Linked DNA regions of Homo sapiens. The protein of the gene in region 2 interacts with the protein of the main gene of each other region in a biochemical or structural test. Each region holds a gene or a part of one and is shown on either strand. Other genes may lie near its edges. The genes, in order: UBE2S, UBA1, UBE2E2, UBE2N, UBE2Z, UBE2D4 and UBE2J2.

Evidence for each region.
Region 1: of the proteins of UBA1 (region 2) and UBE2S, one has a biochemical effect on the other in vitro, tested with the Homo sapiens proteins (8 studies listed by BioGRID, with this or other methods).
Region 3: of the proteins of UBA1 (region 2) and UBE2E2, one has a biochemical effect on the other in vitro, tested with the Homo sapiens proteins (4 studies listed by BioGRID, with this or other methods).
Region 4: of the proteins of UBA1 (region 2) and UBE2N, one has a biochemical effect on the other in vitro, tested with the Homo sapiens proteins (10 studies listed by BioGRID, with this or other methods).
Region 5: of the proteins of UBA1 (region 2) and UBE2Z, one has a biochemical effect on the other in vitro, tested with the Homo sapiens proteins (3 studies listed by BioGRID).
Region 6: of the proteins of UBA1 (region 2) and UBE2D4, one has a biochemical effect on the other in vitro, tested with the Homo sapiens proteins (4 studies listed by BioGRID).
Region 7: of the proteins of UBA1 (region 2) and UBE2J2, one has a biochemical effect on the other in vitro, tested with the Homo sapiens proteins (2 studies listed by BioGRID).

The regions. Positions count from the first base shown.
Region 1 is NC_000019.10:55,402,017-55,404,788, forward strand, and holds part of UBE2S (ubiquitin-conjugating enzyme E2 S), read right to left. Parts: intron 2,463-2,772; coding exon 2,272-2,462; intron 2,132-2,271; coding exon of another isoform or gene 1,985-2,131; exon of another isoform or gene 1,947-1,984; intron 1,327-1,946; exon of another isoform or gene 1,116-1,326; coding exon of another isoform or gene 927-1,115; intron 642-926; exon of another isoform or gene 574-641; intron 1-573. Other genes in the region: RPL28 (large ribosomal subunit protein eL28), read left to right, coding at 927-1,115. UniProt on the Homo sapiens protein: Accepts ubiquitin from the E1 complex and catalyzes its covalent attachment to other proteins. Catalyzes 'Lys-11'-linked polyubiquitination.
Region 2 is NC_000023.11:47,213,229-47,215,628, reverse strand, and holds the end of UBA1 (ubiquitin-like modifier-activating enzyme 1), read right to left. Parts: intron 1,303-2,400; coding exon 1,201-1,302; intron 1,093-1,200; coding exon 992-1,092; intron 836-991; coding exon 700-835; 3' UTR 501-699; downstream 1-500. UniProt on the Homo sapiens protein: Catalyzes the first step in ubiquitin conjugation to mark cellular proteins for degradation through the ubiquitin-proteasome system.
Region 3 is NC_000003.12:23,496,827-23,500,326, reverse strand, and holds part of UBE2E2 (ubiquitin-conjugating enzyme E2 E2), read right to left. Parts: intron 720-3,500; coding exon 587-719; intron 1-586.
Region 4 is NC_000012.12:93,435,448-93,438,947, reverse strand, and holds part of UBE2N (ubiquitin-conjugating enzyme E2 N), read left to right. Parts: intron 1-3,500. UniProt on the Homo sapiens protein: The UBE2V1-UBE2N and UBE2V2-UBE2N heterodimers catalyze the synthesis of non-canonical 'Lys-63'-linked polyubiquitin chains. This type of polyubiquitination does not lead to protein degradation by the proteasome.
Region 5 is NC_000017.11:48,911,407-48,914,906, forward strand, and holds part of UBE2Z (ubiquitin-conjugating enzyme E2 Z), read left to right. Parts: intron 1-1,427; coding exon 1,428-1,615; intron 1,616-3,500. UniProt on the Homo sapiens protein: Catalyzes the covalent attachment of ubiquitin to other proteins. Specific substrate for UBA6, not charged with ubiquitin by UBE1. May be involved in apoptosis regulation.
Region 6 is NC_000007.14:43,932,936-43,936,435, reverse strand, and holds part of UBE2D4 (ubiquitin-conjugating enzyme E2 D4), read right to left. Parts: intron 1-3,500. UniProt on the Homo sapiens protein: Accepts ubiquitin from the E1 complex and catalyzes its covalent attachment to other proteins. In vitro able to promote polyubiquitination using all 7 ubiquitin Lys residues, but may prefer 'Lys-11' and 'Lys-48'-linked polyubiquitination.
Region 7 is NC_000001.11:1,260,355-1,263,854, reverse strand, and holds part of UBE2J2 (ubiquitin-conjugating enzyme E2 J2), read left to right. Parts: intron 1-468; coding exon 469-509; intron 510-1,464; exon of another isoform or gene 1,465-1,570; coding exon of another isoform or gene 1,571-1,586; intron 1,587-3,500. UniProt on the Homo sapiens protein: Catalyzes the covalent attachment of ubiquitin to other proteins. Seems to function in the selective degradation of misfolded membrane proteins from the endoplasmic reticulum (ERAD).

The DNA.
Region 1 (2,772 bases), on a different chromosome or scaffold from region 2:
GTCCTCCGTGGAACTTGCTGGGTAACGGGGGAAACGCCAAGGCCCCCTCTCAGGAGTCCATTACTTGCCTGAGCCCCAGACTTGAGTCCTATTATGGTTTTGAATTTGCCTCCATGCAGTTCAGCATGACCTTAGAGGCCCTCTGGTTCAACGAGTGAGGCCTGCAGCCTGGACAGAGAGAAGAGACTTCCCCAGGGCCTCAGGATTTGAGGAAATCACACCTGCGTGTTGGACTCTAAAGCTCCCCATCTTTCCAGATACAGCATAAATCCTGACCTCTGTCTTTTATCAGACATCCGAAGTTCACAGCCTAAGACTCTAGCTGGGTTGGACCACACACAAGAGGGCAAGACACCAGGACTGCTGGCTGAGGTGCACTTCGAGGGTGGTCCAGAGATTCCTCTCAACCCCCTTCACAGCCCGTCCTGAGGGGTAAATTGGAGTGCAGAGGTGTGACCTGCAGCCAGGCCTCCAGCAGCCCCAGCTGGATCCTCTGAAGTGGGTCTGGGCAAACTGGCCACAGCAGTTTGCTCCCTGGGGCCACTATGACACATACACAGTACCTGGCTCAGCAGATGCTCAGCAGATATCACTGATGGTGACCAGGACACAGGTTCCCACCCTAATTCTCATCACTGCACCCAAACTGCAGGTCTGGCTGCTCTTCTTGCTGGCTGAGCCCCTGACAGGCCCAGATGCTGACCTAGCAGCAAGTAGGCCTGGAGCTCGGTGCCAATGTCCCCAGCAGCCTCCAATGACACCCCAGGGGAAGGGAGGCGGTACATGTGGGAGGGAAGGGTTTGGGGTCTGTTTACCTTGGAGCTCAATCCTCTCCCTCCCCATGGCAGGAAACCCCAATTCCCCACCCTCTCTGCCATGTGCCCCAGGGACTCATTAGAAATTTGGTTAACTTTTTTTTTTTTCAGCTTGCGGGAAGGGTTGGGAGGCAGCAGGCTGTAAGCAGCCTGGAGCACCAGCCTAGACCAGGACGCCTCCACCTCAGCAACACCGCAGCCAGGTCATTCTGTGTCATGGAGCCATCTCGTACGCTGCAGGATTTGGGCAGCACCCTTGGCCTCCACCCACTAGATGCTAGTGGCACCCCCGAGTTGTGACAACCCTTTCTGGTCTCCTGACAATGCATAATACCCCTTGGGGGGCAAAATCACCTCTGGCTGAGAAACACTGGTTTATGAACCCTATCGCTATTAAAAAACCACTGAACTGTATACTTTGGAACTGAGTTTTACGGCATGTAAGCTCAGCTTTAGCAAAAAAGCCTCTAATGAGACCCCATCTCTGCAAACCATAAAAATATAAAAACTAGCTGGGTATGGTGGTGCATGCGTGTAATACCAGCCATTCAGGAAGCTGAGGCAGGAAGATCACCTGAGCCCAGGAGTTCAAGGCTACAGTGAGCTATGACTGCGCCACTGCACTCCAGCCTGGGCAACAAAGAGCCAGTATCTTTAAAACAAAAAGAAAGAAAGGAAAGAAAGGGAAGAAAGAAAAAGGAAAGAAAGAAGAAAGAAAAGAAAGAAAGAGCTTCTAACTAGACCCTTGACCTCCACCTGTCAGAAAACTGTCCTACAGGGTAGGCGCAGTGGCTGGCTCCTATAAGCCCAGCACTTTGGGAGGCCGAGGTGGGAGGATCACTTGAGTTCAGGAGTTTGACACCAGCCTGGGCAACAAATGAGACCCCATTCCTGTTTTATTTTTTATCTTATTTTTTTTTTTTTTTTGAGATAGAGTCTCACTCTGTCACCCAGGCTGGAGTGCAGTGGCGCGATCTCGGCTCACTGCAACCTCTGCCTCCCAGGCTCAAGCGATTCTCCTGCCTCAGCCTCCCAAGTAGCTGGGATTACAGGCATGTGCCACCATGCCCGGCTAATTTTTGCATTTTTAGTAGAGACAGGGTTTCACCATGTTGGCCAGGCTGGTCTCGAACTCCTGAGCTCAAGTGATCCACCACACCTGGCCTACCCTATCCTTGTTTTTTAAAAAAAAGGGAGAAGAGAAAAACCATCCTACAATACAAACTCACCACTCGTTGCATAGTAAGGTGCTCCTGGGCACTTCTCAACAGTACTTGGGTGTCCTGGGTCTGGCACTGTTTGTCTTTCCAGGAAAGCTAGCAACATGGATTTTTATGTGGAAACCTTCAACCACTTCAGAGTTGATTCAGAAAAACTAAACAAAGCGCTATGGCTCAGACACCAGCAGACCTCCAGAGGCAGGAGGCAGGAGGCCCAGCCCCAGCCCAGAACTCACCAGCAGTACGTGTCGGATGCCCAGCTCAGCCGTCCAGTCCCTCTTGAGCACGTTGACGCAGATCTCGCCATTGGCGCCCACGTTCGGGTGGAAGATCTTGGTCAGGAAGTAGCCCTTGGGTGGGGAGGCAGGGAAGTCCTTCCCCAGCAGGAGTTTCATGCGGAACAGACCTCCAGCATATGGGGTCCCCTCTGGAGTGGAGGGAGGGGTACAGGGTCAGGGCACTCAGGAGTCCCAAGGCACCTCAACACCCCAAAGTCCAGTCTCCACGGTCTGATTGTGATGCAGGTGGGTGCCCCGCCAACTCTGCCAACAGACTGGAGGATTCTTTTTTTCTTTTTTTGAAATAAGGTCTCTTGTGTCACCCAGGCTGGAGTGCAGTGGCACAATCTCAGTTCACTGCCGCCTGCAATTCCTGGGCTCAGGTGATCCCATCTCAGCCTGCCAAGTAGCTGGGATTACGGGCATGCCACCAGGTCTGGCTACTTTTTTATTTTAAGA
Region 2 (2,400 bases):
TAAAAATCACGAAGTATGCCTGCAGGCACTGGCATTCGGCAGAGCTGTTTAAGACACCCCTGCAGCAAGGAAATTGAACTAAGAGCAGCACAGGCATTCCTGGTGCTGGGAACCATGACCACAAAAGGCTGCCCAGGGTCTGAGTGCTTTGAGCCAGGTGGGAGGGGATCTGCCCTAAGGACATAAGGCACGCTGGCCATGCCCTAGCAGCCTGGTCACCGTAACTTTCCTCTTCACAGAGCAAGGAGTTAGGACATGGAGAAGGTGAGAATTGAACCCAGCTCAAATTAACAGTCACATGGACCCAAGTACCTGCTCACTATGGCCTCACTGGTGCCTCCATCTCTTCCTAGGCAGAGAGGGCAGGAAGAGGTGGCAATTACATTTTCTTTGTCCAGAAAACTGGCAGGTGTGGTGGGGTTGAGCCCTCTGAGTTATCATCTGAACCAGACAGCTCCAGGAAGTCCCTTCCTTCCCTGGAACCAGCAGGGCAGGCGATGTGGGAGTTATTAATTCTTTATTAGGATTCAGGTTTCAAACAAGGTAGAAGGCAGTGGCAAGAGGGGTTCAGGTAGGGGGATGATGAGGGAACACCAGACTTGGCTAGTTGGGCCACTGCCAGAAGCCAAATGGGAACCCTGGGCTGGAAGGGGTGTGGAGAGGGGTGGACAAGGGGCCAGCCTAGAGGAGCAGACGGGGTCAGCGGATGGTGTATCGGACATAGGGAACCTCGACATCCTCGCCGCTCTCGTCGTTACAGCACAGCTCAAGCACCAGCGCCCGCACGTGGCGGCCCAGCTTTCGCTTCGACACACGGCTCACAATCTCTGTCATCCTGGGGATAGGGGGATGGGAGTATAGGGTCAGGAGGGCAGAAAGCAAGAGAGGATGGGCAGGTAGGTAGGGGCAGTGAACTGGAGTGGGACAGCTGGATGATGAGGCTCCCCAACCCATACAGGGCCTCCCCTAGCCTGGCCAGTGTCCAACTCACGGCTGATCCAACCGTTCCTTGAGCTTGGCAGCTGGCATGAAGAAGGAATAGAGCATGGACACGCCCTGGGACAGCATGGTGATCTCTAATTTGTGCTCTGTCTGGAGAGGGAGGGGGAACAGCAGGGTCATGGAGGTGGACAGGCCAGCAAGTCACCGTGTACACCTCGCCCCCTGAGGTGGGGTGACAGAGTAAGGGAGGGGCCTTACCTTAAAATAGTCGAGGAACTGTTTGAGGGTCATCTCCTCACCATTAGGCTGCAGCCCTTGTACCTCAAAGCGATCCCACAATGTCCACTCTTGGTTATAGTACTGCAAGACAAAGAGGGGAGTGTAAGATGGAGACCATCCCAGAGGGTCCAGCCCCCATCTGTCTCCATCCCCCCTACCCCCATGCAGACGTGTTTAGTCAGATCACAACCCTCTTTTGTTCGAAATCCTCTTGTGGTTCCTATCTCACCCTAAGCAATGAAATTCTGTTTTCTTCTCATCTCCTACCCTCCTCAATCTCACACTCACTCTGGGGACTTTGAATTCCTCCAACTTGCCAGGCACACCCCTATCTTGGTACCCTTTCAAGAACTGGTCCCTCTGCCTGGAATGTGTCCCCACTCGCCACCAAGCCTGCACAGTTTGTCCCCTTACATCCTCCAAGTCTGATCTCAAATGTCATCTTTTCAGCAAGGCCTTTTCTGACCATCCTACACAAAATCTCAAATACATCCCCTCGCCCCCTGGTATTCTCAAGTCCTCTTTATCTTTTTTTTTTTTTGAGATGCAGTCTCGCTCTGTCACCCAGGCGGGAGTGCAATGGCGCCATCTTGGCTCACTGCAACCTCCGCCTCCCGGGTTCAAGTGATTCTCTTGCCTCAGCCTCCCGAGTAGCTGGGATTACAGGTGCCTACCACTACGCCTGGCTAATTTTTTGTATTTTTAGTAGAGACAGGGTTTCATCATGTTGGCCAGGCTGGTCTCAAACTCCTGACTTCAGGTGAACCACGTGCCTCGGCCTCCCAAAGTGCTGGGATTACAGGCGTAAGCCACCACGCCCGGCCTCTTTTTATCCTTTTTTGATTCCAAAATCATTTAATAGGTTATTTATATAATCTACTTGAGGAACATAACTTAGAAGAGTCCCTGCACACAAAAGGTGCTCAATAAATATTTGAGTGAATTCATTAATGAAGCAAGCAAAGCACTTAAGTGTAGGAAGCGTCCAATAAATTTTGGCTGCCATTATTGTGTAGTTACTAATAATCTCCCAGGGCACAATTCAAATATCCCATCTTTTCGCACGTACTCAAATAATGTGATTAATGAATAAGTGAAAAAGGATACACAAAAAGGGTAGGTACACAGACAGAAACCCTCACCTGGTGACAGGGTATGACGTGAATCAGAACCAGATCT
Region 3 (3,500 bases), on a different chromosome or scaffold from region 2:
ATTGATTAGTTTCATTAATGAACTATTATAAATACTTTACGAAATTTTTTAACACAACTTTTAAGTCTCTGTGGGTCATACTTTCCATACTAGTCCATGTGTGCTACATGTGAGCAGCTGAACTCTAGAGGCACCAAAACTCAAACCTCCATAGCTGGTGCTATAAACCTTGCCTAGGCAAGGCTTCCTCTGCCTTTAGCCTGATTCTTGCGCTTAGCTTGCTTGGGCTCTGGCTCCAGGCTACGTCTGATTTTCTGGGCTCTGGTACTCACCCTGGCCCAACCTTATGCCCCCATTTTCACCCATAAAACATGGTGTTTTAATGTTACATTAAAACATATAACAAAGAAAGGAGATAATGAGGAGAAAAAGGAGGAGAAAAAAAACAATGAAATCAGTAAAAAGCTGGGGTGGAGGAATAACCTACAATTTTTTACATTGTTTCATTTTATACACTATCAATCCTGGGAAGCTGTCTGTGACAACAGAATAGACATGCATCCCTAGAATGCATATTTAAGAATAAGTATATGTATCTAGAAATATAATCCATATTGCTAAAAATCAATGAAAACTTCATACTGACCTTAGGGGGTTTAAACGGATAGTCTGGTGAAAAGGTAATGTCAAGAAAGAACACCCCTCCTTCATAGACAGATCCTGGGGGTCCCAATATAGTTGACCTCCATTCATAAATGTTGTCTCCTTTGGGTCCAGCACTGAAATAAGACATACAAATGAAATGTGCTTAGAAATTACATAAAGGCTGGAATTTAACAAAATCTATTTATGATAACCAATTGAGCAATTCCATAAAAACACAAAAAGTTAATCAGTTAACTCTCATGTTAAGATTCATATTGCCAATATTGTCATTATCCTAGAAGTGAAATATGTTGGTATCACTTCATAAAAGAACACCAAGATCCTCTTTTGCCATTCACAACCCTACGCCTATGGAACAAGAGTCCAAGGACTACAGGCCAGAGGTAGAAACACAAATGTTTAATGAAAGCATGAAATTATTTGTGATGTCAGAGACAAAATTTCAAAGTTAGAAGGACCTCTGGGGAATGACTAGTCTGATCCCTTTGCTAACAACTGAGAACACAAAGGAGGTTCAATGTTCATCATCCAAAGTCTCTGCTCAAATATCATATCCCATCTGAATCTTCCTTTCTTTCTCCCCACCCAAAGGACTTCCTGACCCATACATCATGACCAATGAGGTCTGTAGAGGATAAGATGTATCATTTTGTTTTATAACTGTGTTTTGCAACTAATGCTTCTTTCTACCCTCCCTAGAAGGTGCTTGAGGAACAGGTTGTACCTTGTCCTTAGTGCCTCTTAAGTCAGTATGTTGGATGATGATGAATTAATAACAAAGCAAGTGAAGAAGCCACATGGCTACTAGCAGTACACATGTCTCTGAGTTTCAGAGAATTTTGCTGAAAACAATATGGCCCACATGAGTCGAGTGAATTGTATTAGTTCTCTCAGGTGAAAAGAAGGGCAAAATGAGATTAGGATTTAGCTAATCCTAAGAATGGGCTCAAGCCATTCTTGGGTCTCAGCCTCTCAAGTAGCTGGGTTTACAGGCATGCATCACTGGACCACACCTGGCCCCTAGAAAATGTATTTTTAAATGAGTTGCAATAGGTCTTGTAGGGAAGCTATGAATAAAGTCATAAAAGATGTGTAAGATCTTTATGGAGAAAATTATATAAAACTTATTGAAAAGTACTCATAAGAGTTAAATAAATGGAGGGAGATACCAAGTTTATGGGTAGGGAGACCTGATATCAAATGTCAGTTTCTCCAAATTGATTCATCATAATTCCAATTAAAAAGTCCAACTGCTTTTTAAAACCAAAACTCGACAAGTTGATTTTAAAATTTTTTCGGAAGCTCAAAGAAATTCCTCAAACTTTTCCACACATATATGAAAACCTGATTTATGTCAACTGATGGGACTAGGAAAAGTTTTTATATTTGAAAAACAGAGAAACTGGATTTTTACCCTCAGTAAATAAACAAATGCTGTTGCAGATGGATTAAATATTTAAATGCAAAAGTCAAAATATTAGAGTTTGACTGAAGAGAGTGACAAGGCAAGCTGCAAACAGAAAAGATATTTGGATCATATAAAAGTGACCAAATACTAGTGTTGAGAATACACAAGTTCCTAAGAATCAACTAAAAAAAGACTCTATTAAAAAAGACATAGACATTTCCAAAAAAAGGGAAACATAAATGGCCAATAATCATATGAAAAATGCTCAATATCATCAAAATCGGGGAAATGAAACTGAAAATCAAAATTCAGTAATATTATTTTACAAAATGCAAATGCAAAAATCAATGCCTGACAAAACCACATGTTGATGAGGATGTGGAAAAACTAGAACTCCTATGTACTGCTGATGAGTATGAGTAATTCCTTCGGATGAGAATATAGGCTCATCTAGTTAAGTTGAATATACAGTTGACCCCTGAACAACAGGGTCTGCATTGCGTGGGTCAACTTAGATGAACTAAATTTCAAGAAAATACATTAGAAAAATTTGAGATTTGTGACAATTTGAAAAAACTCGCTGACAACGCACTAGCCTAGAAATATTGAAAAATTAAGAAAAAGGAACGTCATGAGTGCACAAAATATACACAGATATTAGTTTTTCTTATTTACTACCAGAAAATATATACCGATCTCTTACAAAGTTAAAATTATACCCACAAACCATACATGATGCCATGAGCATTTTAAAAGAAATGTAAGCAAACACAAACATAGAGTATTAAATCATAACTGCATAAAAGTAACTATAATACATACTGTACTACTGTAATAATTTTGTAGCCACCTCCTGTTGCTATTGCAATGAACTCAGCTATTGCCAATAGCTGCTTAAAATGCCTAAAATGCCACGTGACAAAAATCATCTCTGCATGAGCAGTTCATCTCTCCAGCAAATTGCGTATTGCCATAAAAAGTGCTCTCTCTCAGTTCTCGCATATTTTTCATTGTGTTTGTGCAATACCGTAAACCTTAAATAACACCATGGGATCCATACGAAGGGCCACTAGTGATTCTGGAAGTAGTCCCAAGAAGCAGAGAAAAGTCATGCCATTACAAGAAAAAGTTGAATTACTTGATATACACTGTAGATTGAGGTCTGTAGTTGTGGTTAGCTGCCATTTCACCTTGTAAACAGATGATGTAAACTCAGGGTAACAATAAACACGGTACAATACTGTAAATGCATTTTCTCTTCCTTATGACTTTCTTAATATTTTCTTTTTTCTAGCTTACTTTATTGTAAGAATACAGCATATATACATATAACATGCAAAATATGTATTAATTGAAATGTTTATGTTATGAGTAAGGCTTCTTGTCAAAAGTAGGGTATTATTAGTAGTTAAATTTGGAGAAAGTCAAACATTATACATGAATTTTTGATGGCACAGGGGGCTGGTACCTCTAAACCCTGAGTTGT
Region 4 (3,500 bases), on a different chromosome or scaffold from region 2:
GAGGCAGAATTTGGATCTTGATTAGTGTAACATTCCCCTGTCTCTTGTTACTGTAAAATGACTAACTACAAATACAAGATGATTTTCTGGACTACTATTCACCCAGTTGCTATCTCATTTAGATTCCTGTATCTAATCCAGTAGCAAATTCTGTAGGTTCTGCTTTCAATATATGTACTAAATCAGACACTTTCCCCCCTGTCTTTCAAACCTCTGTTCACTTCCATCATTTACTGCCTGGCCTCCTGTATTAGCCTACTTTGGAGCAGCAGCTAGTGTTATCTTCTTAAAATATAGACCATGTTACTCCCCTGCTAAAAACTGTAGAGGTTCTCCATCACACTTACATTAGAATCTTGCCTTCCCCCCCACCCCTTAGCTATAAGGCCCTGCATTCATTTGGGATGCCTACTTCTGAGCGCATCTGCACTTCTCTCTCTGGGTCACTCCACTGTAGCCACACTGTTGCTTTGCTGTACCCTGAACAATAAGTGGTTGAGCTTATTCCAGTCACAGGACTTTCCTCCAGTTTGTTGCATTGCTTGCTTTGTCCAGTTGTTCCGTTCTTAGCTCATATGTCATACCCTCTACCTAACCTGTCCCGTATAAACCAGTTTCCCTTTTTCCTCCCCCACAATTTTATCCTCCTATCTCCCTTTCTTCTGTATAAGTGCTTATTACTGTTCGAAGTTATGTTATTTACTGTTTATTTCTCTCTATTCCCCATTAAACCTTCATGAAGTTAGGGACTCTTGGATATCCCGGGCATTGCTCATTCGTGCCTAGACCAATCCTTGGCACATAGTAGATACTGAAATATTAATAGACTAACTGAATAGATGAGCCTTAATCTCAATGAGCAATAATTTGACATTGTTACTCCTTGGTATATTCTGTCTGAACCAATGTCTGAGCTAAAAGTTAAAGCTAGTCTCGTTTTCCACCCATAAGCTCACTTAAAAAGGACATCAATCTTTTACATTATTTCTTTTTTGTGTGCCTACTCTGCTTATGTATCTTTTTTTATTAACTAGGAAATGCACACATAGAGCACATTTGAAAGGCTCTGAAGGATACGTAGAGAATCCCTCATCTGTCCTTCAGCATTCCAGTTCCCCTGCTTAGAAAACCACTGTTTTTGTTTGTTTGTTTGTTTGTTGAGACGGAGTCTCCCCCTGTTGCCCAGGCTGGAGTGCAGTGGTGCAATTTTGGCTCACTGCAAACTCCACCTCCCAGGTTCAAGTGATTCTCCTGCCTCAGTCTCTTAAGTAGCTGAGACTGCAGGCATGTGCCACCACACCTGGCTAATTTTTAGTAGAGATGGGGTTTCACCATGTTGGCCATGCTGGTCTCAAACTCCTCTTCTCAAGTGATCCACCTGCCTCAGCCTCCCAAAGTGCTAGGATTACAGGTGTGAGCCACTGCACCCGACTTCAACCACTATTTTTATTGTGTATCCTTACAAGAAGACCAGAGCAACTTTCTGCTATAAGTTAGGCGTCTTCTCCTTCTCATGCAAATACCTTGATTCCCTTCTCTTCCCCTCTAACCACCTATGTATCTTCAAGTTGACTTTTTTTTTTTTTTAAGAGACAGACTGCTGCTTTGTTGCCCAGGCTGGAGTGCAGTGGCTTTTCACAGGCGTGATCATAGTACACTATATACATACAGCCTCGAATTCCTAATATCAGGTGATCTCTACCTTCAGCCTCCAGTATCTGGGATTACAGACATGCATCATAGTGTTCTGCTTTGGCTCTTTTTTTTTTCTCAAAGGGCTGTTTAATGGAACCTTATGGTTAGACTTTATTTTATTTTTTCAAATATTGGAAATTTAATACTTTTTCAGTAGAGATGGGGTCTTGCCATGTTGCCTAGGCTGTTCTCGAGCTCCTAGGCTCAAGTGATTCTTCCACCTCGGCCTCCCAAAGTGCTAGGGTTAACAGGCATGAACCACCGTGCCTGGCCTAGACTTTATTGTAACTAATTGCTTATTCATAACTTTCAGAATGTTTCCTAAATTGTGCTATATAAAAAATGCTGTAACGAAGTTTTGTATGTATGGCATTTTGCACAAGTGTGAGTGATATTGAGTCTTAGTAGTTCTGTTTTAAGCTAGAATCTTTAGTTTCGTTTTTCTGCCTTATCTTCTGGACCAAAGCTCTTTTAGCCAATAAAAGTGACTGAAGCTGGGCATGGTGGTTCACACCTGTAATAACAGCTCTTTGGGAGACTGAGGCCCAAGGATTGCTTGAAGCCAGGAGTTGAGACCAGCCTGAGGAACATAGTGAGATCTCCATCTCCACCAAAAAAAAAAAAGTGAGCAGTTAAAGCTTAAAGTCATAAAGGTTAGGAGGTACCTAAAATGTCCCTCAAATGAGAGGTTCTGCATAATCCTGTCATAAAGGAGAATCACTTTCGGGAACCGATAAGTGAGATCTATAGTTATGGCCTTGGTCAAAACCAAATCTGTTTCAGCTTTACATGTTACGTTGATACAGTGACTGACATTCCTTTAATGGTCTTTTCAGAATTAATCATGAGGGCTGAGCACTGTGGCTCATGCCTATAATCTCAGTACTTTGGGAGGCTGAGGCGGGAGGATCCCCTGAGCCCAAGGTTTCAAGACTGGGCTGTACAACATAATGAGACCTTGTCTCTACAAAAAGATAAAATGAAAATTAGCCAGGTGTTGTGGCACACATCTGTAGTCCCAGCTACTCAGGAGACAGGTGGGAGGATTGGTTTGGCCCAGGAAGTTGAGGCTGCAGTGAGCCTAGATCGCGCCACTGCACTCCAGCCTGGGCGACAGAGTGAAACCCTGTCTCAAAATAGTAATAATGATAATAATGAAAATGATAAAATACAGTCTTGGGAAAAAGTAGTTAACTTACCCTAGGGGTTGACTTATTTGATTAAAACCTAGTGAGTCAACCTGCTGGAATTAGAATTTTACCAGTCTTTCGCAGAATTTACTTTATGTCTCCCTTCCCCACTGGTCCCTTGTCTATGGTGCTTAAAAATTTACTTAAGAAAATACATTTAATTAATTTTTTGAAACAGGGTCTCTGTCACCCAGGCTGAAGTGCAGTGGAAAAATTTACTCTTCTATTTGGTGTGATTTAGCCTCAAATTCTTAAAAATCAGATACAGTCTGATTTTACATTGAGACTTGAGTTTACTTTTTTAATAGGATTTTTTGAAGTACACACATTTTTTCCTGTTACTGTTTAAAAGCCACTCATTTGATAGGTATTCTAGTGCATAAGGTATTTTTTTTTGTAAGAAAAGTGATTTAGAAAACTCACCTTTTATTTATTTGAGACGGGAGTCTTGCTTTGTTGCCCAGCCTGGAGTGCAATGGCACAATCTCGGCTTACTACAACCTCTGCCTCCCAGGTTCAAGCAGTTCTCCTGCCTCAGCCACTGGAGTAGCTTTACTCTCTGCCTTGAACATTTTTTTTTTCTTATTTTGAGATGAAGTTTTGCTTTTGTTGCCC
Region 5 (3,500 bases), on a different chromosome or scaffold from region 2:
CCTCCTCTCAGAGAGAAAGCTTAATACATAATGTCACATTTCTCTGGCATAGATACCTAGGTTTCTCTGTCACTGAATGCTCTACCCACAGAAGTGCAGTTGCACTTAAACTGATGTTAGAAAGAAATCATATTTCCTAAACCTAATGCTGTTTAAGTGAAACACATAGTTTTCTTACAGTAAATTTCTTACAGTAAAAATTCAGATTTTGTATTGTTGGTGTATCTTTTTTTGTTGTTTTGAATAGATTTCCCTTCATATTTTTTTTTTATGTAGTTAGAAATGTTTTTCCTAGGACATCTCGTCCTCAGTCAAGTACCAGTGTTAATAGCCTAGTACCTGGGGTCCCAGAGTTGATGCCATGTTGAGACCAGTTGAGTTTACTATTCCAAATGACTGAGAGCCAGAATATGACGTAGGGTCTTGCCAGGAGGGCAAGGTGGGAACTATAGACTTAGGCATTGGATTGCCACGTCCCTTTCCTTTTGCTGTTCAAATGCTTAGCAGACCTAAATGCCTAGGAGCCTTTGTGGAAGAAGAAATATAACTGAGTCAGTTCAGGTTTTCCTCCCTTCAGGGGGGGAAATCCTGTTGAAGAATTATGGCTTGAGGGGGAAGAGAATTTAGTGTCGTTTTCAGGACGGCTGATTTTTTTTTTTTTTTTTTTTTTAAACAGTATTGGGGAAAGTTCTGGGACTGGTCTAATGGCTCTGAGTGGACCCTGAGTCTTCCCCATTTTCAGTCATGATGTGCTGCCTGAGCCACATCCTCCACAATAGGTTTGATCCTCTGCAGAGGAAGCAAGCAGATACCCTAGGCATCCATCACACCCCCTAACCCTGCTGTGTTACTGGCACTGGGCTGTGGCCTCCAATCCCTTTCTTCGTCTCCTTTCATCATACTTTCCCTTCGTGCCACATAAATGTAGGGTGGGGTTGCATCATATGCATGTTTGGCCTGGGCAAATCCAAACATATATTCAGTCAAAATCTGTGTCGATTTCTCAAAATTAAAAACGCTAGGGTTATATTTTATAGATAAGCATATTATATTTTTCCACAGTGGTGTTTTATCCATTATATGTAACACTGATCAGGGAGGTCTGCACAAAAAAAAAAAATGCTTTAAGAGAGTTTTAGGGGATACTCAAGAGTGATTTTGACTAGATTCAGTTTTCGCCTTGGGCTCTAACTTTAGAAGTAACCCCTGAGTAAGATGTCATTCCACTGTAATGAGATTTCTTAAAATTCCAAACCTACGTATTAGTATGAGTGAATACAGGATGTTCCTTCTGCATGGTGAGGATATAGAACATGTGTACCAGATTATGGACTCTGCTTCTGGTGTGGGTAGTAGGTGGAGGGTAGCCAGGAGGGCTTGGGGTGGGTCATCACCTCACAATTTTGAGATGGGGTTTTATTTTGCAGATTCATGCATTGATCACAGGCCCATTTGACACTCCTTATGAAGGGGGTTTCTTCCTGTTCGTGTTTCGGTGTCCGCCCGACTATCCCATCCACCCACCTCGGGTCAAACTGATGACAACGGGCAATAACACAGTGAGGTTTAACCCCAACTTCTACCGCAATGGGAAAGTCTGCTTGAGTATTCTAGGGTAAGAGGAGACTTTTAAGTAGCCAAGTCGGTTGTTAGCAGATAATTACTCTAGGTCAGCCTTTATCAACCGGAGTCCCTCATCTGAACTACAGAACACAGAAAATGATTGAGTGACTCTTCTCAAATCTCCTCAGGATGGTATGTGACTAGTATCATTCTAGATGCAGAGGGGAGAAGTTAATTTATTACAGTGGTAACCTTTGAGAAGTGGTTCTCTTAAGAGTGTGGCCCTGAGCATCTGGGAACTTGTAGCCGAGCAGTTTCTGGGGCCCTATCTTAGACCTACAAAAGAAACTCTGGGGTTGGGGCCAAAAATCTGGTTTTTTTGGTTGTTGTTTTTTGTTTGTTTTGAGACGGAGTCTTGCTCTGTCGCCAGGCTGGAGTGCAGTGGCACGATCTTGGCTCACTGCAACCTCTGCCTCCCAGATTCAAGCGATTCTCCTGCCTCAGTCTCCCAAGTAGCTGGGGCTACAGGCGTGCACCACCACACCTAGCTAATTTTTGTATCTTTAGTAGAGACGGAGTTTCACCATGTTGGCCAGGATGGTCTCGATCTCTTGACCTCATCATCCACTCACCTTGGCCTCCCAAAGTGCTGGGATTAGAGGCATGAGCCACCGTGCCCGGCCCAGAAATCTGTTTTTTACAAGCTCTCCAGATGATTGTGGTGCATACTGCAGTTTCAGAACCACTCTCTTGGGGTGTTAAGGCCTTATTTTCTCTCCTGAACAGGTTGAGAAAGGCTGCAGGTCTGTGCCATTCAAGATTTGGGGTGTCTTAATTTGAGTCTTGCAATAAGTTGCTTTGAAGGCAGTGGCGGTGGTGGTGGTGGTGATCATTATGGTTTCATTTTTGTTTTGTTTTGTTTGTTTTTGTTTTGTTTTGTTTTGTTGGTAGAGGCAGGTATCTCACTATGTTGCCCAGGCTGGTCTTGAATTCTTGTCCTCAAGCAGTCGTCCTCTTGTGGCTCCCAAAGCACTGGGGTTACAGGCATGAGCCTCCATGCCTGACCTGATTATAATATTTTAATAATGACAAATGTCTGAGATTGGAAATCACATTAGATATGAAATGAGTTTCTAGTGCATCTTCTTTCTGGATGCTTCTGAGGTTTTGCTTCATAGAGTTCCCATTTTAGTTGCCTTTGGGGGCTGAAAACTCAGTGTGGACATCTTCTCGCATATTTTGGATTGGTGTTTTTATAGTGGTCTGAACTTCTCTGGGACAGAGAACACGTGCAGGTTGAAGTTGAGAAAGTACCCCCAAACTGATTATTCTGTTTTCCTGCTATCCAACATGTTTCCAGGTTTGTGTGAGGGAAGAGCAGCATTTGAAATAAACTTAGAGACATGATTCATTTTTCTAGGACTTGCTCAGACCCAGGGATATGTTCTGCTGTGATTTTGGCAGTGAAGAAGTCTTTTAAAGGAGGTTGTCCTTAAAGAAGTACTTCATCTCGTTAGGGTACTTAATTAATTGTCTTTGCTGGTAGGCTAAAACCCATGATGATAAAGAAATTTAGTCGTTGCTTCTGTATGAAATTTGTTCGCGAAAGCGTGTCTCAAAGTAGGCTCTCCCTCATTGGGTCAATATAAAACTCTTTTGAGATACCAGCCACAGGACAGTGGGGTAAAAGTAGTAGAAGTGTGTTAGGTAGAAAAGGAGAAGCTGCCCTGAAATTGAAAATTTGCCATAAAGAATCACAGAGTAGAAAATTTCAGCCGGGTGCGGTGGCTCACACCTGTAATCCCAGCACTTTGGGAGGCCGAGGCGGGTGGATCACCTGAGGTCAGGAGTTCGAGACCAGCCTAGCCTGGCGAAACCCCGTCTCTACTAAAAATACAAAAATTAGCCAGGCATGGTGGCGCATGCCTCTAGTCCCA
Region 6 (3,500 bases), on a different chromosome or scaffold from region 2:
AGTAACAATGATAAAAGTGAGAAGTTCCGAAAAAGAGAAAGTAAGTTAAAGTATTGAATAGTAGTAGAGAAGAGTTAAGCAAACCATGGTACACACTCAGTTATTCCTTTACGGTGTTTCGTCAACTCCAAGACTCCATCCTTTATAAGACACAATTTTACTTTACATACAATTAGGAAAAAAAAAACATGCTGGCAAATAAACTAACACAAATGCTTTCTTTGCACATAAACTTTAATTGTATTTAAAAATTACTTTTATCAGGCTGTGTACAGTGGTTCATGCCGGTAATCCCAGCACTTTGGGAGGCCGAGGTAGGCAGATCGCCTGATGTCAGGAGTTCGAGACCAGTTTGGCCAACATGGTGAAACCCTGTCTCTACTACAAATACAAAACTTAGCTGGGCTTGGTGGCATGTGCCTATAACCAGCTACTCAGGAGGCTGAGGCACAAGAATCGCTTTAGAGGGTGATGCCATGGGCAGGGCAGAGCATCTGGGGTCTTTTGGGAGCCTCCAATCCCCAACAGTTTCGCAGAACACTGATATCTATGGACTCTAAAATGGGCTTCATTTAAAGAAACCCACAGACCATTAATGGACAAAAACATGAATCTATATGTATTGTGACATTCCAGTCCTGGCACTGTGGGAGAGCATCAAGTACCACGTTTTTGAAGACCATGGCCTATCATCATTATGCGTTCAAGATCTGAGTTTGAATAACCTCATCAAGACTTAGATCTTCTTCAAAAGCTTCAAGTCTCATCTGCATTAAAGCTCTCCATTGAACCCTCTCACAAAAGTGCAAACTTAAAGGGACTAAAATCCGTTAACACATTCCATTTTATATCCCTTCTTCTGACTTCTCTTCAATTTCCTTGGCCTCTGGGGCCCTTTATATTGCTTATGTTCCTTTAGGGCCAAAGTGACAGTGCTTTCCAAAAAAAAAAATATGTATTCTGTGGCCATAAGTTTACAGAGAAGCATAAATTTAGCATGATGAATTTAGAATTAGGTCTTTTATGGTATTCTGTAAAAAGTTGAATTAATAATAAGAAAATGAGGATGAAGCAGTAAAAATATTTTGGGTTAGAATATACTCTCCAAAGCTATGTGGTTTAGAGAAAAGGGCCCCCAACCTAAAAGTTAATAGTTCTTATTCTGTCTCTGCCTTTTACTAGGTAACTGAGAAAGTCACTTAACCTCTCTGAACCTTAACTTCATTATCTATAAAGCGTAACTGATATTTTCCCCTCCCTACCTCACAGGGTTGTTGTGAGGAACAAGTGAAACAATGTACATAAAAAGACATATAAAATGTATAATACAGACAAAGGGTCCTGTTACGTAGTTGGAAGTCATTCCCTCAGATCTTGGGCCTAGGAAGATAGGTGATTTAAGCTCACTGAAAGCATGTACCATGTCCAGGCTGAATACATGGTAACAAGGCTATGTTACATTTTTTTTTTCCCTGAGTTGAGTACCTAAAATACCACATGGGCTAATTCTAAGAAGGAGCACCACTATATATTTCCCTAAAATTATAGCTTAGCATTGTTAATGCTCTAGAGCAGTTATGCATTGTAACATATTAGTGATTTGTGAAAGATTTTTACTAAAACGTGACCAGCATTTTTCTTTAAATGAAAGAATGTAGAATATTTCACAATGCATCCCATGTGATGAGAAAAAATATTTTTTTTAGTTATATGTACATATGCATGTGTGTGAATGTGTGTGTGTACTTGGTCATTAAATAAAATGTACTTTTTCTTCTTGTGGGAAAAAAAAAAAAGAATTGCTTTAGCCCGGGAGGTGGAGGTTGCAGTGAGCCAAGACTGCGCCTGTGTGACAGAGTGAGATTCTGTTTCAAAAAATTAAAAAATTAAAATTACTTTTATCAAAAGAATTATTTTAGGCTTAAACATAGCTTTGTGTGTTTCTTGTTAAGTATCATTCATGAATACAAAAAAAAAAAAAAGGAAAAACAAGTGAAATAAATAAACTGGTTTGTTCAGGTATTCCTAAAGTTTCTTCCCATTCAGAGCCCAACACTGAGTCATTGATGTCTACACAATATCATCCTCTGTGTCTTCCAAAACAATGGTAATGTGGCAATTCTTAGAGTCCTCTACTACTCTTCCTGGAGTTTTCTTTCAAGCCATGAATACTTATTCTGCAAAGGCCCATGATACACAATCTATTTGCACGTATTCCAGAAAAAAAAAAATGACCCAGTCTCACCAACTTGAGGGTAGGTGGTACCTTCCTTTCTGTGGCTATGAAGAATTTGGTTGCTTGACATGGAATTAGGAAATTCCAGTCCTTCCTCCAACAACAAATATTTGCTCCCTTATTATGAAATTTACTCGTCGTTGTCCTGTTTCTGTGCCTGTGTTCACAAAAGCTTTTCTTTTCAGTGCTAAATCACACTATCTTTTTGAAAATATTTTTAAAACAATTAAACTCAACAAATATAGTACCAGCAATGCACTTACCTCATAATGAACTGCCATGATGGTTTACTCATACAGATAGTGACATCTAAGTGAAGGTAACCTGGCTGACAGCTATTGTAAGAAGCATCCCAATTTCAGAGACGTGAACATTTGAAAAAATATTCATCTTGAAGTAGATGAATATGGTATTATCTTATTTCCAAGTTCTCTTTATTTTTTATTTTTATTTTTAGAGACAGGGTCTCACTGTGTTGCCCAGACTGGAGTACACTGGCACCATCTCGGCTCACTGCAACCTCTGCCTACTGGGTTCAAGCAATTCTGGTGTCTCACCCTCCAGAGTAGCTGGGACTGATTACAGGAACGCACCACCATGCCCAGCTAATTTTTGTATTTGTAGTAGAGATGAGTTTCACCATGTTGGCCAGGCTGGTCTCAAACTCCTGACCTCAAGCGATCCTCCTGCCTCAGCCTCCCAAAGTGCTGGGATTACAGGCCTGAGCCACCACGCCCAGCCCCAAGTTTCTTTAAAGAACAATTACTACCTTTATAATCAGAAGTTAACTAAACTTTTTTTTGAGAAACTAAACCAAGTATTATGCAGCCACTGAAAATTAGTTTTTAAAGACTACAGAATAACAGGAGAAAATGTCATGATACAACATTAGAGGAAAAGGGCAAGAAAAAAGCAGAGTATAAAATTTGATGCACTACATGACAACAATCTGAAACACATACACATCAAAGGCACTGAAAAGAAATCCACAAAAATGTTAACTACAATTACATGAATAGGTAGAATATATATATATATACACCCACACATATATATGTACGTATATGTATATACACACATATAAGTATATATGTTATATATATACACACATACATATGTGTATATATATGTGTGTATATATGTTATATATATACACACATACATATGTGTATATATATGTGTGTGTATATATATATATATATATATATATATATACTTTAACATTTGTTGCCCCCAGGAGGGGAACTGGATGGCACACATTCCA
Region 7 (3,500 bases), on a different chromosome or scaffold from region 2:
CACCCGGCTAACTTTTTTTTTTTAAATAAAGGTGGGGTCTTGCTATGTTGCCTAGGCTGGTGTCAAGCTCCTGGGCTCAAGCGATCTTCCACCGTGCCCTCCCAAAGTGCTGGGATTACAGTCTTCAAGTACATCTTAGTAATGTACTGTGAAATTAAAATTTATTTAAGATTTCAGTTATTATTAAGATGAGCTTCGTGCATGTTATATTGTCGAAACAAAGGTACTTTATGGTAAACTTATAAAGTATAGTCTCTAAGATCCTGTTACAAGAGACTAAAAGCACCCACGGTAGAAGAGACGGGGGTTTTGAAGCCGTGTGGCTGTGTGACATTTCACCTTCATTTGTTCACTGCCTGAATGTGAATGTAATTTTGGCTGGGTTCTATAAACCCCAGGCTTGGAATGATTCAGATTTTGGAGAATTTGCTGTCCTCAAATCCCAAGTAATTTTCTTCTCTCCCTTAGGCACTATGTCGTCCGAGGCCCAGAGATGACCCCTTATGAAGGTAAGGATTCTGTGCTTAGGAGAAGAACACCAGGCGGTTTTTATATTCTCAGTCAGCCTTGCCTGTTCAACATCTTTTATTTGCAAACAGCAGCCTTTCTACTTTGGATGTGTGCTAGTTAAATTGGCTTAGTTGGAACTCCTCCTCGTCTGCTTCTCCACACGCTGGAAGTGTTTGCTCTGCTGATGTGTCTCAGCCTGCAGGGCCGCCTGTAGCGTCTGTGTTCACCAGCCTCTGACACCATAGGGCCATAGCTGAGAAAACCAGACCGGGGTAAACACTGAAGCTGGCCTGTTCTACTATTTCTTAAGACCCAGTGCATATCATCAAAGGAAAGGCACATATATTCAGTTATTCAGTGTGCCTTCTGTGCTGGGCGCCCCCAGGGTTTCGCAATCCCCAGGACGGTCTCTGAGCTAAGTGGAAGTACCCCTGTGTGGTGGCACCTGGGGCTTCGGTAGGCTGCAGGACCTGTCCAGCACCTCAGCCCTTCATCGACTACCAAGGCTGATCCAGCAGCCTGACCCCTCCAGGTCAGCAGACACCACCTAGAGACCTAGTGTCATTTATAGAGAAGATGCTGGAGCTGTCAGTAAGTTTCTGGGGCCTTTGGCGGAGGCTGGCGCCAGCCTCGATCTGGACCAGGTCAGTAGTCAGTGTGCCCGTGAATACTGTCCCGCCGGCAAGCACAAGGCAGAGCAGGGCCAGGTCAGCAGTTGCTGTCCAGCCACAGGGCCCCGGCTTCAGGTGGCTGGAGCAGCAGGCTCTGTTTGCCTGTGTGTGGAGGCTTTGGATGAGATTTCACTAGAAGAGAGTGCTGCTGCTAGAAGAAGGTTTGCAACCCCTGCTTTGGACTGTCGGGAGGGTTGTGGGTGGGTAAGAATGAAAAAGGCTCTCCTGAAGGCATTTTGGCCGAGTTAACACAGCCACACCTGTGGACTCTCCTTTGGCCCAGGAATCCCAGTTCTGGATCATCTGCAACTAGGGCAGCCAGAGTGCGGGAGTACATCTGTAGGGTGGGCCCTCCATCATCGTGTCATTGCCCATGACCAGCGTTGGGGATGCCAGCAGGCCGTGGTGAGATAAGGCCCGGGAGCAGGTGTCCAGGGCGTGTTAAAGTACTTGTTACGATGCGTGTGTGTGCCTTCAGCTGATCTGAAGAATATATACCACCGAGTGAGTAGTGGTCGGCCGGGCGCGGTGGCTCACGCCTGTAATTCCAGCACTTTGGGAGGCTGAGGTGGGCGGATCATCTGAGGTCAGGAGTTCGAGACCAGCCTGACCAACACGGAGAAACCCCATCTCTACTAAAAATACAAAATTAGCCGGGTGTGGTAGTGCATGCCTATAATCCCAGCTACTCGGGAGGCTGAGGCAGGAGAATCACTTGAACCCGGGAGGCGGAGGTTGCAGTGAGCCGAGGTCGTGCCGTTGTATTCCAGCCTGGGTGACAAGAGTGAAACTCGTCAGGAGATCCAGACCATCCTTGCTAATACGGTGAAACCTTGTCTCTACTAAAAAAATACAAAAAATTAGCTGGGCGTGGTGGTGGGGCCCTGTAGTCCCAGCTACTCAGGAGGCTGAGGCAGGAGAATCGCTTGAACCCAGGAGGCGGAGCTTGCAGTGAGCCGAGATCGCTGCACTCCACCCTGGGTGACAAGATCAAAACTCCATCTCAAAAAAAAAAAAAAAAACCAAAATGGGTGGTGGTCTTTGACAAGCAAAATTATGCCAGCTTTACATTTTTTTTGTTTGTTTTGTGGTTTTAGTTTTTTAAAAATAAATAGTGAATATTAATTCTGTATCCACACCCAGTCTCCCTCAACTTCACCAGCTAGGTCAGTTGCTGGTGGAGATGAGCTGCTCCCCCAACAGGGCTGGACACAGTTGGGAGAAGAGGGGGCAGCCCCTGGGTGTGGTGCGGCCGTTGCCAGCCCCAACCCTGTCACTTGTGCTTTTATCTTGGTCCCCTCCCATCGCTTCCGTTGTTCCCCACAACCGTGTGTGGCTCTGTGCTGGTCCTGGGTCTCAGGAAAGCCTCCCTTCAGAGAGAGAATGTGTGTTCCTACTGCCCCTCCCATTTCCCTCTATGGCACTGCTGCTCCCGTCCCCGCGGACCTCCCCCTCACTGGGGGATGCCTTTTGCTCTCTGCAGCCCTGCCCTCTGCTCTCCTTCAGGGTCTCCAGGGAACCCCTCCGAATTGCCACTTGCCGAGGGGCTGTTCTCAGTCCTCAGTTTCTTAGCCTCTGGTATCTGATGCTGCTGACGACAGCTTCCTTCCTGACTTCGGGATTTCTGACCCCTTTTCCTGCCTGTGCATTAGCTGCGTCCCCTCCGTGCACTGGGTTCCGTGGCTGTTCTGCCCCTGGTGCTGCCCAGGCGTGCCCACTCTGACAGTTCAGAGCTGGCTTCCTACAAATGTTGCTAAATCATTCCCCTTGAGTGAATCTGTAGATTTCACACAGTCCTAACAAAATCTCAGTTTTTTATACTACACAAGCTACATGCAAAGGCAAAGGACCTAGAACAGTTAAAACCATTTTTCTAAAGAATGAAGTGGAGTCTGTGGTTTCAAGACTTACCCCAGTGATGAGGGTCAGGCAGTGGTAGAGGAGGGACAGGCCATGGGGCAGAGTAGCCAGCTAGGCCTTTGCCTCAGGCTTTTCAGCAGATGGCCTGGGGTGTGGGGATGTTCAAGCTGCCAGGGACCCACTTCAGGACAAGTGGGTGCTTCCTGATTTTCATCTGGTGCTGTGAACGTCTGTGTGTGTGTGGCTCTTGGTGCCTTTGTCTTGGGTTTCTCTGGCGGGTGACAAGCAGTGGGATAGCCGTCTGGGGCTTCCCGATAGGTGTGCGCGCAGTGAGGCAGCAGGGCGCCCGTCTCCCATCCCGACAGGTGTGCGCACGCAGTGAGGCAGCAGGGTGTCCATCTCCCAGCACCCTCTGCGCTCAACTGGCTGTTTCCTGCCGTGTAAGTCACTCTTGCCCAT